2 linked regions of the Homo sapiens genome follow. The protein of the gene in region 1 interacts with the protein of each later gene in a pairwise test. Each region holds a gene or a part of one and is shown on either strand. Other genes may lie near its edges.

The links. Proteins that work in one complex are often made in the same cells at the same time.
Region 2: the proteins of LRRN4 (region 1) and DZIP1L interact in binary tests that used the Homo sapiens proteins (3 or more experiments, as listed by UniProt).

Annotation. Positions count from the first base shown.
Region 1 is NC_000020.11:6,039,220-6,044,560, forward strand, and holds the end of LRRN4 (leucine-rich repeat neuronal protein 4 precursor), read right to left. Parts: coding exon 5,324-5,341; intron 3,028-5,323; coding exon 1,803-3,027; 3' UTR 1,327-1,802; downstream 1-1,326. UniProt on the Homo sapiens protein: May play an important role in hippocampus-dependent long-lasting memory.
Region 2 is NC_000003.12:138,112,609-138,120,217, reverse strand, and holds the start of DZIP1L (cilium assembly protein DZIP1L), read left to right. Parts: upstream 1-4,609; 5' UTR 4,610-4,890; intron 4,891-6,737; exon of another isoform or gene 6,738-6,829; intron 6,830-7,609. UniProt on the Homo sapiens protein: Involved in primary cilium formation. Probably acts as a transition zone protein required for localization of PKD1/PC1 and PKD2/PC2 to the ciliary membrane.

The DNA.
Region 1 (5,341 bases):
TGGGATTACAGGTGCACACCAACTGTGCTTTGCAGTTTTGTTTGTGTGTGTGTGTGTGTGTGTGTGTGTGTGTGTGTGTGTGTGTATTTTGTTTTTTTTACAAGCCCACAACATCATAGCTTTGCAGTTTTTAACCAGGAGCTGGTGGAGATCTTTGAAATCATTTAGGCCAATTCTTTTAGTTACATTTATGATGAAACTAGGGATCTACCTTAAAGTTTTGGGAAGCTCTTTCAAAACTTCAGACACCTAGAAATATATATAGTGCAGTTCAGTTTTAGTTTCTGCAGCATGGTTTGGAAACAAAAGATACATAGGATTTAAACTCGATTTGTTTTCTTCTTACAGTAGAAGTAAATGCTCTTGTGGCTTGAATCGCATCTCCCAAGAAAGATACGTTCACGTTCAAACCCCCAGTACTGTACATGTGACCTTATTTGGAAATAGGGTCTTTTTAGATGCAGTCAAGATAGAATTAGATCATACTGGATTACAGTGGGCCCCAATAACTAGGTTTTTTTGTTAAAAAAAAAAAAAAAGGAAATGTGAACAGAGAGAGAATGCCGTGAGATGATGGAGGGATAGATTGGAATGATGTCTGCGAGCTAAGGAATACTGAGGATTGCTGCCAACCATCCGAAGCTGGGAGAGGAGATGGAACAACTCCCTCGGAGCCTCCAAGAGGAACCAACCCCACTGATGCTTTGATTTGGGATTTCCGGCCTGAACTGTAGGAAAATAAATTTCTGTTCTTTTAAGCCATTTTTACCAGTTTGTGGTAACTTGTTACAGCAGCTGCAGGAAATTAATAAATGCCAATGTTGAAAATTAAAATCTAGAAATATGGCTCTAATTATAATTTCATAGAATCATTTTTTCCCCTGAGTTTCCCCTGAGTTTGCATAAAAGTGAAAAAGTAGAGGACAGAGTAGATGCCTCCCACATGAAGACACAGATTATTAAGGCATTGTTTGATGCAATTAGGGCAGAGAAACACGGGCTTCTAGCTAGAGCCTCGGGTTCTCTTTTGCTCATTTCTTCCCTCTAATTAAGAAAAAATATTTCCAAAGTTTATTATGCCTCCTAAAAAATGAATTTATAATTCATTTGTCCATTTAGTCTTAGGTGAAATGCAGTAAACACTAACTTAAAAGGACAGCCTTTCCCTGTGTTTGACAAATGTTCCCAGAAAACTGGTTTTAACTGTAAAGCCGGGAGTACATTTTCTTGTCATGTCCTGAAATGGAACTAATAAACCCAGAAGGCCTTAGGAAGCAACCATTAGCTCTCCCCCTTACCCTAGTTCTCAGGAATTGGAACTGGAAATCCACTGGAATTGATTTCTTGAATAACAGAGCTCGTTGTGTCTTAGAGCTTGACCATGAAGGAGCTTCCGCTGGAAAGACCTGAGGATGTGATTTCTAACATGATCAAAGAGGCTGGGTTATGCAACTTCTCTGTTTCATCCCTTCCTACGTCCATACACTATTCTACTGGATAGAGAGGCACTGACTGCTGAAAACCGCAAATGAACCAACAACACACAAGAAGGCCTGGCGGCAGTGGGGAGCGATCTGGCATTGACCATCAGGTTTCTGGGAACAGAGTTAAGTAGAAGGAAGGGAGGGCAGCAGTTCCTTGGACCCAGACACTCAGTGTGGCAAGTTCCATGTGTGCTCAAGGCATTCTGGCTTCACGGGAATTAGAAACCCTAGGAGCGGATGGGGTCGTTTTTGACCGTCTGTGTCTTCCTTTTTGCGCTCAGATCCAGTTCGATGAGACGCGTTATCCCAGAAGCTGGGCTAACTGACGGTCTGGAGCCCCAGCGGGTAATCATCAAAGGCCGGGTTTTTGTAGGCCACCAGGTGCGTGTCGCAGCGCTGCAGGCCCAGCGTCTGGCCCCGCCTGCAGAGACATGCGGACAGCACCACGGTGCTGGCGAGCAACAGGCCGCTGGCGGCGCACAGCCCAGAGAGCAGGAGCGCGAAGCTGGGCTTGGTGGTGAAGGCGGCGCACGGGCTCCTCCAGCCCGAAGACCGTGGCTGGCTCAAGCCCGCCCTGTTGGCCGCCAGCACGCACACGCGGTAGGTGGTGCCCGGCGACAGCCCGTACAGAGGGTGCTGCCGGGCCGTGGCGTAGATGACCCCCACCACCGACTGGTTCCCCGCCCAGCCCTCCGCAGAGTAGCGGATCTGGTACCCATGCACTACCGAGTTGGGGGCACACCAGTGGACCAGCGCCGACGTGTCCGTGGTCTCCGTCACCCCCTGCAGCCTGGGCGGGTCTGGGATGGTGTCTTCCCCGCTGAGGCCGGGGCACCGGCACCGCCACCGCCTCTGCAGCTCCGCGCACGGGGTCTGCAGGTGCTTGCAGGGATGGTAATCACAGGGGACGTCCTGGTGAGGCGTTCCCACCTCCTCCTTCCTCCCTTCCTCCTCCTCACTGTAGTCGTCCAGCAGCAAGACTGGAATCTCGCCCTCGGAAAGACTCGGGTTGGGGGCTTGGGGTGTGGCGTGTGTCCTCTGGCCGGGCTGAGGCGAGCTTATGCTGCGGTCCCACGAGGTAGGGAAGGGGCCCAGGAGCTTGCTGGCCAGTGGGGTGGAGGCAGCTGAGATATCAGGCTCAAGGACAAGCTCGGGGGCATGTTCTCCTCGGTGCTGGGTCCTGGTGGTGCTGGCAGCCCTGGGGAAAACGCTGGAGTTGCTGTGACCTGCTACAGAGTTGGTCGTGGAGGGGGCAGTCCCCTCCCGTGCATCGCTGTGCGGCCATGCAGCTATCGTGCGAGAGCCCACGTTAGGGGCCTTGGAGACACTCTGCTGGTCTCCCGCAGGCCGGGTGGCGGGGGCTGCGCTGGGCGCGACGGTGGTACCCTGTGCGTAGGTGGAGCGGTTGAAGCAAGGTGGGTGTGAAGCCCCGAGAGTGGTGCTTTGGTCGGACTGGCACACTCCGGGCAGCTGGGAGAGTGACAGGGAGGCTGAGAAGGGGCCGCTGGATCCCGCAGCTGGCGCGCACATAGTGTCTGCTGCCCTGGAGGGGAGGCCAACCAGTTAGAAGACGTCTGGCTTCAGGGACACTTCTGCGCAGAGCTTTGAATCCTCATTGCCGACGTCACCCCCTGCCAAGCCCATCAACGCGTCTCTGCCAGGCACCCCAGGGCACACACGCCGCACACACACATCACCTCATTGATTCTGGGGAAACCTTTGGAGGAAGCTCCTGTCCTCACTCCCACTGGGCAAAGAAGCAAACAGAAGTTTAGAAGGAGGAACTAATTGCCCAAGACACCATAGCTAGCAATGGCAGAGCCTACCCCGGGGCAAGCACTGAGAAGGAGTCCAGATTCTCTGAGTGTCATTTGCCATTTTGTTCTCACCTGTCTGCTTCCTGGCAAGAAAGCACTAGTAATAAAAATCATACTCGGGCCGGTGCGATGGCTCAAGCCTGTAATCTCAGCACTTTGGGAAGCTGAGGCGGGCAGATCACAAGGTCAGGAGGTCAAGACCATCCTGGCTAAGACGGTGAAACCCCCTCCCTACTAAAAATACAAAAATTAGCCGGGCATGGTGGCGGGTGCCTGTAATCCCAGCTACTCAGGAGGCAGAGGCAGGAGAATCACTTGAACCTGGGAGGCAGAGGTTGCAGTGAGCTGAGATTGCACCACTGCACTCCAGCCTGGGCAACAGAGGGAGACTCTGTCTCAAAAAAAAAAAAAAAAAAATACTCATACTAGCTACCATTTCTGAGTGCTTCCCACGTGCTAGGCGCTATTCTTCACACTCCAATGTGTCAACTAATTTAGTCTGCACTACTTTTGCAGTAGACTCTATTACCCCATTTTACAGATGAGAAGGTAGAGGCCAAAGTAACTCAGGTGAAATAGCTCAGCTCAAATCAACAGTAGTAAGTAGACCAGGTACAGTGGCTCATGCCTGGAGTCCCAGCACTTTGGGAGGCCCATGTAGGAGGATCACTTGAGGCCAGGAGTTGGAGACCATCCTGGTCAACATAGTGAGACCTCGTCTCTACCAAAACAAACAAACAAAAACTTAGCCAGGTATGGTGGCACATGGCTGTGGTCCCAGCTACTTGGGAGGATGAGGCAGGAGGATTGCTTGAGCCCAGTAGTCTGAGGCTGCAGTGAGCCATGATCATGCCACTGCACTCCAGCCTGGATGACAGAGCAAGACCCTGTCTCTAAAATAAATTAATAAAATAGTAGTAAGTAGGATGAAGCTGGACTCTCTGGCTCCAGAGCCTGTAGTCTCAGCTTCATCATTAATACTGTGATGAGACCCTTGACTGCAAAGGGCCCAGGTGCTTCTCTTTGGAGGGAATGTGGGGTTGGGGGGCAGACTGAGCCCCACCTCACAGCTGGGCTTGGGTGGGAGATGAGAAAAGAATCTTGGCCGGGCATGGTGGTTCATGCCTGTAATCCCAACTCTTTGGGAGGCCCAGATGGGAGGATCACTTGAGTCCAGGAGTTTGAGAACAGCCTGGGTAACATGATGAGACTCCATCTCTACAAAAAGATTAAAAAAAAATTAGCCGGGTGTGGTGGCTTGCACCTCTGGTCCCAGCTCCTCTAGAAGCTGAGTAGGATGATCGCTGAGCCCAGGAGGTTGAGGCTGTAATGAGATATGATTGTACCACTGCACTCCAGCCTGCGCAACAGAGCAAGACCCTGTCTCCAAACAAATAAACAAAAAGAATCCTGCAGAATGGTGGTGAGGGGGGTTGCCTCCCAAGGTATAGTGTTTACTTGGTGGAAATGGTTTGAAAGTGCTCAGGACTGGGGGTGTTCCCAGCCCCCCAGCTCCCACTGTCTCCTGGTGGCCAGCCTAAATGTGGCTCCTCACTGCAAAAACAGCTCTTTCTAGCCAATAGTCTTCATAGGAATTTCCCAAGAGAGCTCTGTAAGCCCACGGGCCTAGGACTGGATAACCCGGGAGCAGGAGGCCAGGCTCCATCTTGAAGATTCAGTAGAACCCAGTGGTTAAGCCAGACTACACTTCCCAGCCTCCCTTGCAGGTAGGTGTGGCTCCTGGCTAATGAATGTGAGTGGAAGTGAGGAGTAACACCTCCCAGCCTGGCTCACCAAAAGCCTCCAGGTCTGCTCCTCCATGCTCTTTGCCCCTTCTGGCTGGCTGGAATGGAGGCAGCTTCCATCACCTGGATCCCTGAGTATGACTACATGGGAAAGGCTGCCCAGCCCAACATGGCCAAAGTGCCAAGCATGGTCACATGAGCAAGATGTAAGCTGGAGAACTTCAGCTCCTGAAGGCTGACCCTCTGCCCTCAGCCATCTGCTTTGTAAATGTGTTACCTGCTTAGGACAGTTCTC
Region 2 (7,609 bases), on another chromosome or scaffold:
TTCCTATCACATTAAAGTTATTACGGATATCTTGAAATAATTGTTTACACTCTTACTACTTTTAGGTCAGATGCTAGATCTTGCCATTTAATGCATTAATAAACAAAAATGCTATTATTTTACACATTTTCTTATGTTTTCATAGCTATATTTTCAATATTTTGATGTCCTCTGTAATTCTATGTTTTGCTTGGTGCATTTAAAACCATTCTTAGGCTGGGCGTGGTGGCTCACACCTGTAATCTCAGCACTTTGGGAGGCTGAGGTGGGCGGATCACAAGGTCAAGAGATCGAGACCATCCTAACCAACATGGTGAAACCCCGTCTCTACTAAAAATACAAAAATTAGCTGGGTGTGGTGGCAGGCGCCTGTAGTCCCAGCTACTTGGGAGGCTGAGGCAGGAGAATCGCTTGAACCCAGGAGGTGGAGGTTGCAGTGAGCCGAGATCATGCCACTGCACTCCAGCCTGGAGACAGAGCAAGACTCCGTCTCAAAAAATAAATAAATAAATAAAAAATAAAAATAAAAACCATTCTGAGGAAAGGGTGTGGGCTTCATCAAACTGCCAAAGAGGAATCCCTCCTCCAAAAGGCAAAAGCCCAGGCAGGAGGCAGCTGGGGCAGCTCCTTCTAGATCCCACCCGCCCATCACTGCCAGCCAATGAGGGGCCATATCACAGCCACGCCTTAGGCCAGGCTTATCCAGCTCTGCATTTTCATTTTTGCAGAAGGGATGTTTTCCTGAGAAAGGAGGTCTTTTCGGTAAGTGCTCAGACTTCCTTCAAAGTGAACTTTTCAGGGATTGGGCTAGAATGTACGATCTGCCTAAGAAAGTTTCCTCTCAGATCCTGCCAGTTCTAGACATGTCAGAGTGCAGGCCTTTCTTTTGTTGCTAGATTCTTAGATTTTTCAGAAACCAGCAAACCAGATTTTATGTAAAATCCTCCTCTGACTGTATGCCTGCCTATCTATACATCAACGCAGAAAACCCAACAATACACTTTTGACCTAAAATCACCTCAGGGCTCATTAGTGGCCGGCATCCCAGCGCAGGGAGACCTGTCCCATACACCTCAGATACACTTCCCTTCAGGAGAATGGGATCCAGAGCAGGTTTCTAAGGTGTGATGCCAGCATTTGGCAGCAGAGGGCACTCCTATTACAGGCTGTCTAGGCTGTGTCCTATTTCCTGAGGTGTAGGAGGGAGACCGTCTGTGAAAGGGGCTGAGCTGGGTCAGAGGGCGGGTGACTAGTACTGGGCTGAGGAGGGAGTGAGGGGCCATTGGGATATTGAAAATCCATCCTCCTGTCCTCCCACCCAGCAGTTATGGGCCAGCTGCTCGGGGTGACAGGAATGTCTCCTGGACTAGCCAGCTAGGGCCAGTCTCCCTTGGTCTATGCACCTGTCCCCACGGCTGATGCCAGAGCTTGTGTGTGCTACAGTAGAGGTGGGCAGCAGAAATGACAGCTTTCCAGTGCCAAGTGATCTAGTCCTCTAGAGGTTGTTGGTATCCTTGGGACTAAGAAAATAACTTGGCACATGATAGGCATGCAGTAACTCCTCCCTGTGTTGAGTGTTGAACTAAGGCCCAGTAAGGGAAGAGTGTGAGGGTTCCATGCATGAGGTCTTAGTCAGCTCAAGATTCAGGATTTGGTTTTTGGCTAAGGTAGATCTGGGTGCATGTCAAGTCTACTTTCTTACACCAGCCCTGCAAAGGAGGGCACCCTATTTACACATGGGGAAATTGAGGCTGGTGGAAATAACATGCACAAAGGTATCCTCAGAACTACTTTCTGCAAATTTCAGGGATACAGTGGGAAGAGAGCTGAGAAGCAAATGTCCTTGGCGATTTCACAGTGTCAAGTCAGGAGTGCACACCACTGACTTGTAGGCCCAGGGCAGAGCCTACATGTAATTTAGCTAATTTGATTCTAACAACTCTTCTAGGTAGAGTTTACTTTTCCCATTTTACAGAGGAGAAAAATGAAAGGTCAGAGAGGCTACGTGACTTTCCCAGGGTTATGTAGCTTGGGAATGTGGAATGTAGATGTGTCTTTGACTCCCAAGGCCTGGACTCTTCTCTTTGCTCTTGTGGGTGGCAGAAAATCCTGGGGTGAAAAAAGTGCCCTGACTAGGAGAAGACGGCAGGAACAAGATCCCCCATCCGAATACATGGTGCACAGATATCCCAACTTAGTCCTGGTCCCTGCTCCATCCACTATTTTTTTTTAATGTTTAAAAAATTGTGATAAACTGTACATAATGTAAAATTTGCCATCGTAACCATTTTCAAGTGTACAATTCAGTGGCATTAAGTACATTCACATTATTGTGCAACCATCACTACCATTTATCTCTGGAACTTTTTCATCATTCCCAAACTGAGAATCTGTACTCATGAATCAATAACTACTCATTCCCCCTCCTCCAGCCACTGGTAACCACTATTCTACTTTCTGTCTCTGTGAATGGACTATTCTAGGTACAAGTGGAATCATACAATATTTCCAGGTATAAGTGGAATAATACAATATTTGTCCTTTTGTGTCCAGCTTATTTCATTTAGCATAATGCTTTTGCCTTGATCTGAATGTTTGTGTCCCTGCAAAATGGGGTTGAAATCCTGACCCCCAAGGTGACGGTATTGGGAGGTGGGGCCTTTGGGGGGTGGTTAGGTCATGAAGGTAGAGTCCTCATAATTGGGACTAGTGCCCTTATGAAAGAAACCCCAGAGAGCTAGCCAGCCCCCTTCTACTAAGTGAGGGTGCAGTGAGAAGATGACAGCCTATCAACCAGGAAACAGGCCCTCACCAGGCACCGAATCTGCCAATGTCTTGATTTTGGACTTCCCAGCCTCCAGAACTGTAAGAAAAAAACTTCTATTGTTTATATGCTACCCACTCAATGGTATTTTGTTATAGCAGCCTGAATAGACTAAGACAGTTTTCAAGGTTCATTCATGTGTCAGAATTTCCTTCCCTTTTAAAGTTAATATTACATTGTATGGATATACCACATTTTGCTTATCCATTAATCTGTCGATAGACATTTGAATTGTTTCCACTTTTTGGCTATTGTGAATAATGCTATTATGAACATGAGTATACAAATATCTGTTTGAATCCCTGCTTTCAGTTCTTTGGGGTATATACCCAGAAATGGAATTGTTGGATCTTTTGGCAATTCTTGTTTAATTTTTTGAGGAACTACCATTCTGTATCCACAGTAATGGTACCATTTTACATTCCCACCAGCAATGCACAGGAGTTCCAGTTTCCCTGCAAGTCCTTGACAACGCTTGTTCCCATACACATTTGCTTTGGCTGCCTCAAAATGTAGAGCTTGGCAGATTGAGATTGTGGTGGGACGAAAGCCTTTGAAATGGAAAAAAGAGAAAGAGGGAGGGAGAAGAGTTGCGGAGTGGAGAGAGAGAGAGTGTGTGTGAAAAGGAGCTTTTTTCCCACTCTTCCCTGACCCTCATGGGGGCTGCAGCGACTCCTAGAACCTTCAAGCAGCGAGACAGAGGTTCCCTCCACCAGGCGCAGAGCTCTCCTTACACCTGGCCTCCTATTCCCAGCAACTTTAAGGAGATATTTTTAAGTGGCCATGGTTTTATCAAATGCCTATTAAGTTTTTGCCACAAAAGGATTTTATTTAAAATAAAAATAGGGGTAGGTATTTGACTGATGCCCCTTGTGAGTGCTCTAGAGAAGAGGAATGAATACTGACATGTCCTATCTTCCCAGATGCAGAATTGTAAAACAAACATAACTGCTTTTCACATGTGAAAGAAAACTGGCTTAGAACATACTAGCGTTTTCTTTGCCATGAAGGAGTTCACCTTCAGTGACTAAGCCAGAACTACTAGAGTTGCCGGGCCTAGGGACAGGAGACATTGCCAGTGCTTAGCCAGGCTGGCCAGGACTAACCATCTCTGCAAGGAGTCCACAAGAAGCCTCAGGGCAGCCTTTCCCTGCTCCTATCAATTTGAGTTGAGCAACAAACATTTTGACCAAATATCAGCTCTATGGCACAACTCACAGTTACGGTGCCCACAAAACGGAATCTCAGCAAAGCAACTACTACTATGGGAAGAGATCAGGGACTAATATCAGGAGAAAAAATAAGTTTTTCAGTCCTGGGTTTCCAAGTTGGCATCCCCAGGGCAAACCAGCAGGTTGGGAGGGTAGGGGGTGGTGGGTGGGGGCTGCGGAGGGAAGGTGGCTGCTGTCTGTCTGATCAGACCTGGGGCACACCCAAAGAACTCTCCTAGCTTGGGATCCGGTCAGGAAGAAACCAGGACGGTCCCTTTAGGAGGGTGGGCAGGGCTATCTGCCCGGGGGGTGCGGCCGCCCCTGCACAGCAGGCTATCGATTGTACCGGAGGCAGGGTGTGGGGAAACCGGGGCAAGTCCAGCCTCTCAGCAAGGCCAGGAAGCCATTCACTTGGATCCTGGATTTTACTAACGGATTAAACGTGGCATTCCCGCCTTCCCCCATCCGTTACAGACCTAAAAATAGCTCGTCCGAGAGGGGCCGGGAGAGGCTCCACCTCTTCTTGAGGTGGGGCGGGGCGGCTGTAGTAGGAGCTGGAGGCACCAGAGACCCCAAGCCACGAGCTGACCGACGCACCGAGGAGCTCTCTGTCCGCGGTCCCGCAGGTTGGCGGCACTGGAGTGGGCCGGGCAGGCTCTGCCTCCGCCGCAGAGAGCGCCCGGACTGCGTGGGGCTGGGGAAGCATCCCGGGAACGGCGGGCGGTGAGCATTCCGGGAACCATCTCTGGGCTGTCTGGGGCGGTGGAGCAAGTCTGGAGGCGGGACGTGGGGCGAGTATGGGAGCCGCCACCTCGAGACGTCTTCCCGCCGTCCCCGGCTCCAGGAGACCCCACGGTGAGCGGGCCGCGCGGGAAAACTATGCCAGGAATTCGTCCCGGGAGCGGGGCGGGTGGGTAGCTTGGCTGCAGTCCGAGGGATCAGCGATTCGGGAGGTTAAACATTAGCGGGGGCGAACTCCCTGCCGGGGTGCAGCGGGGCGCGGGAGGAGCCGGCTGCGTGCGTCCGCGCTGCCCAGGGCGCGCCCTTCTGGCCCGGCGCGGCCCTGCAGCCCGGCCCCCTCGGCCTGCTCCGAACTGCGGCGCCCAGGGAGGGAAGGACCCGTGCGCGGGGGACGAATGACGGGATGCCCCAAGACTCGGCTTCACTGGGAAGACGGCCTTGGGTTTTTACTTTTTGAAAAAAGAAAAGTGATTTGGGAGGGCTTGATGATCTGAGTGCCGTAGGTAAAGGAGGATTCTTTTAGTAATGAGGTGATTTAAAAGCAATCGCATTGGCATCTTTCGTTCCCCTTCTTCCTTTCCTGGGCTGGACCTCAGCAGGAGGCAGACGTGGTATTTTCATCCTGAGGTGGCTGCGCATAAAGTCCACCGAAGACCTGCTCAGTGCAGGACAGGGATCAGGAGGCAGGGCAGAGGAGGGGGTCCGAGGCTGCCTGGGCAGGGCCTAGTTCACGGAGCACTTCCTAGGGGCCCAGGGCCTAGGCTGCCCCTGCCTGGTCTCCTGGAATTCGATTTCTAACAGGACTTTGGAGAGAGGCCTGGGAAGTATGGGGTGTTCTGACTTGGCTTCTCACACCCTCATCTGCAGATAGGGTGGGTGATCTCTCCCTTCTCAGTTGCAGCCCCTAGCACCTCTCCTCCCCCTCCCGGATGTGAGGACTGGCCAGTGAGAACAATCCTGCTTAGGGAAGGCTGATCCTCCAGTCTAGTGGCTGATAAGGGGCCTTCTGACTGTCTTGGTCAGACACCTCCCTCATCTGGGAATATTTTTTGATACTATCTAACTTGATAAAATACCTCATGAAGTTGTATGCTTCAGGTTGGGAACAGAAACCTGAGTTCATGTGGGCACCATAACTGTGGGTTGTGCCATGGAGCTGATATTTGGTCAAAGGTTTTTTGCTCAACTCAAATTGATAGGAGCAGGGAAAGGCTGCCCTGAGGCTTCTTGTGGACTCCTTGCAGAGATGGTTAGTCCTGGCCAGCCTGGCTAAGCACTGGCAATGTCTCCTGTCCCTAGGCCTGGCAGCTCTAGTAGTTCTGGCTTAGTCACTGAAGGTGAACTCCTTCATGGCAAAGAAAACGCTAGTATGTTCTAAGCCAGTTTTCTTTTACATGTGAAAAGCAATTATGTTTGTTTGTTTTACAATTCTGCATCTGGGAAGATAGGACATGTCAGTATTCATTCCTCTTCTCTAAAACACTCCCAAGAGACATCAGTCAAATACCTACCCCTATTTTTATTTTAAATAAAATCCGTTTGTGGCAAAAACTTAATAGGCTTTTGATAAAACCATGGCCACTTAAAAATATCTCCTTAAAGTTGCTGGGAATAGGAGGCCAGGTGTAAGGAGAGCGCTGTGCCCGGTTGAGGGGACCTTTGTCTCGCTGCTTGAAGGTTCTAGGAGTCGCTGCAGCCCCCATGAGGGTCAGGGAAGAGTGGAAAAGGAGAACACCATGGAATCTGAGAATAAGGCTAAGCTCTGCAGTGGCAGTACTTCAGGAGAGCTCCCAGGTCCCTGTCATCTCTGTTGAGGTCTCTGGAGCTCCCTTGCATACTGTGTGTGCATAGCCTGTTTGCAAACTGTGTGAAGGTTTCCTTGGCAGCCACAACAATTAGCATTAATGACACGCCTGAGCTCCCCCAGTGGGCACTGCTGAAGTTAGCTTGGGAGCCAGGGCAGGTTTGTAAATGATTGCCTGGCAGCCACCTTGGAAACTTGGCTCCCTCAAGTTCTCCTCTTGACTGCATTCTTGAGGAAGCAGAAGAGACAGTAAAGTGGTGATGTTGTTGTTGTTGTCTAGCTGTCAGTTTATGTTAAAAAATAAGGTGTTTGGCCAATTTTGAGGGAGTTATTTTTGACAGATTATTGGTGGGCCGGTTTTAGAAGAACCATAAAGTCTCCAGGGATTGTTTCACAGTGGGATGGCTGTCTTGTGAGGTGGTGAACAACTTGTCACTGGGAGTGTGCAAAGCAAGGGTGGTAGATGGGTTTTCTATATTCTAGATGGGTGTGGGATTGTCCCAGGCAGAAACCAACTCTTAACAATGAAGCAAGTTTGAATGTTAGCACAAATATTCTTTTGGGTCCCTTATTCATAATATTGGTCTAGGAATGGGAAGTTTCCCAAAACCCTGTCAATATATCTAAAGGTGATTAAACAGCTTCAGTTTTCCTAATGACAGTGAGTCATTTCTTCTCTCTCTTTTTTTTTGAGACGAAGTCTCACTCTGTCGCCCAGGCTGGAGTGCAATGGTGCGATCTCGGCTCACTGCAACCTCTGCTTCCCAGGTTGAAGTGATTCTCCTGCCTCAGCCTCCCGAGTAGCTGGGACTACAGGCATGAGCCACCACGCCCAGCTAATTTTTGTATTTTTAGTAGAGACAGGATTTCGCCATGTTGGCCAGGCTGATTTTGAACTCCTGACCTCAGGCGATCTGCCCTCCTTGGCCTCCCAAAGTGCTGGGATTACAGGCGAGAGCCACTGCTCCTGGTTGACAGTGAGTCATTTCTTCCTTGTGTTTTTATTCCCAGATGTGGGAAAAGCAGTCT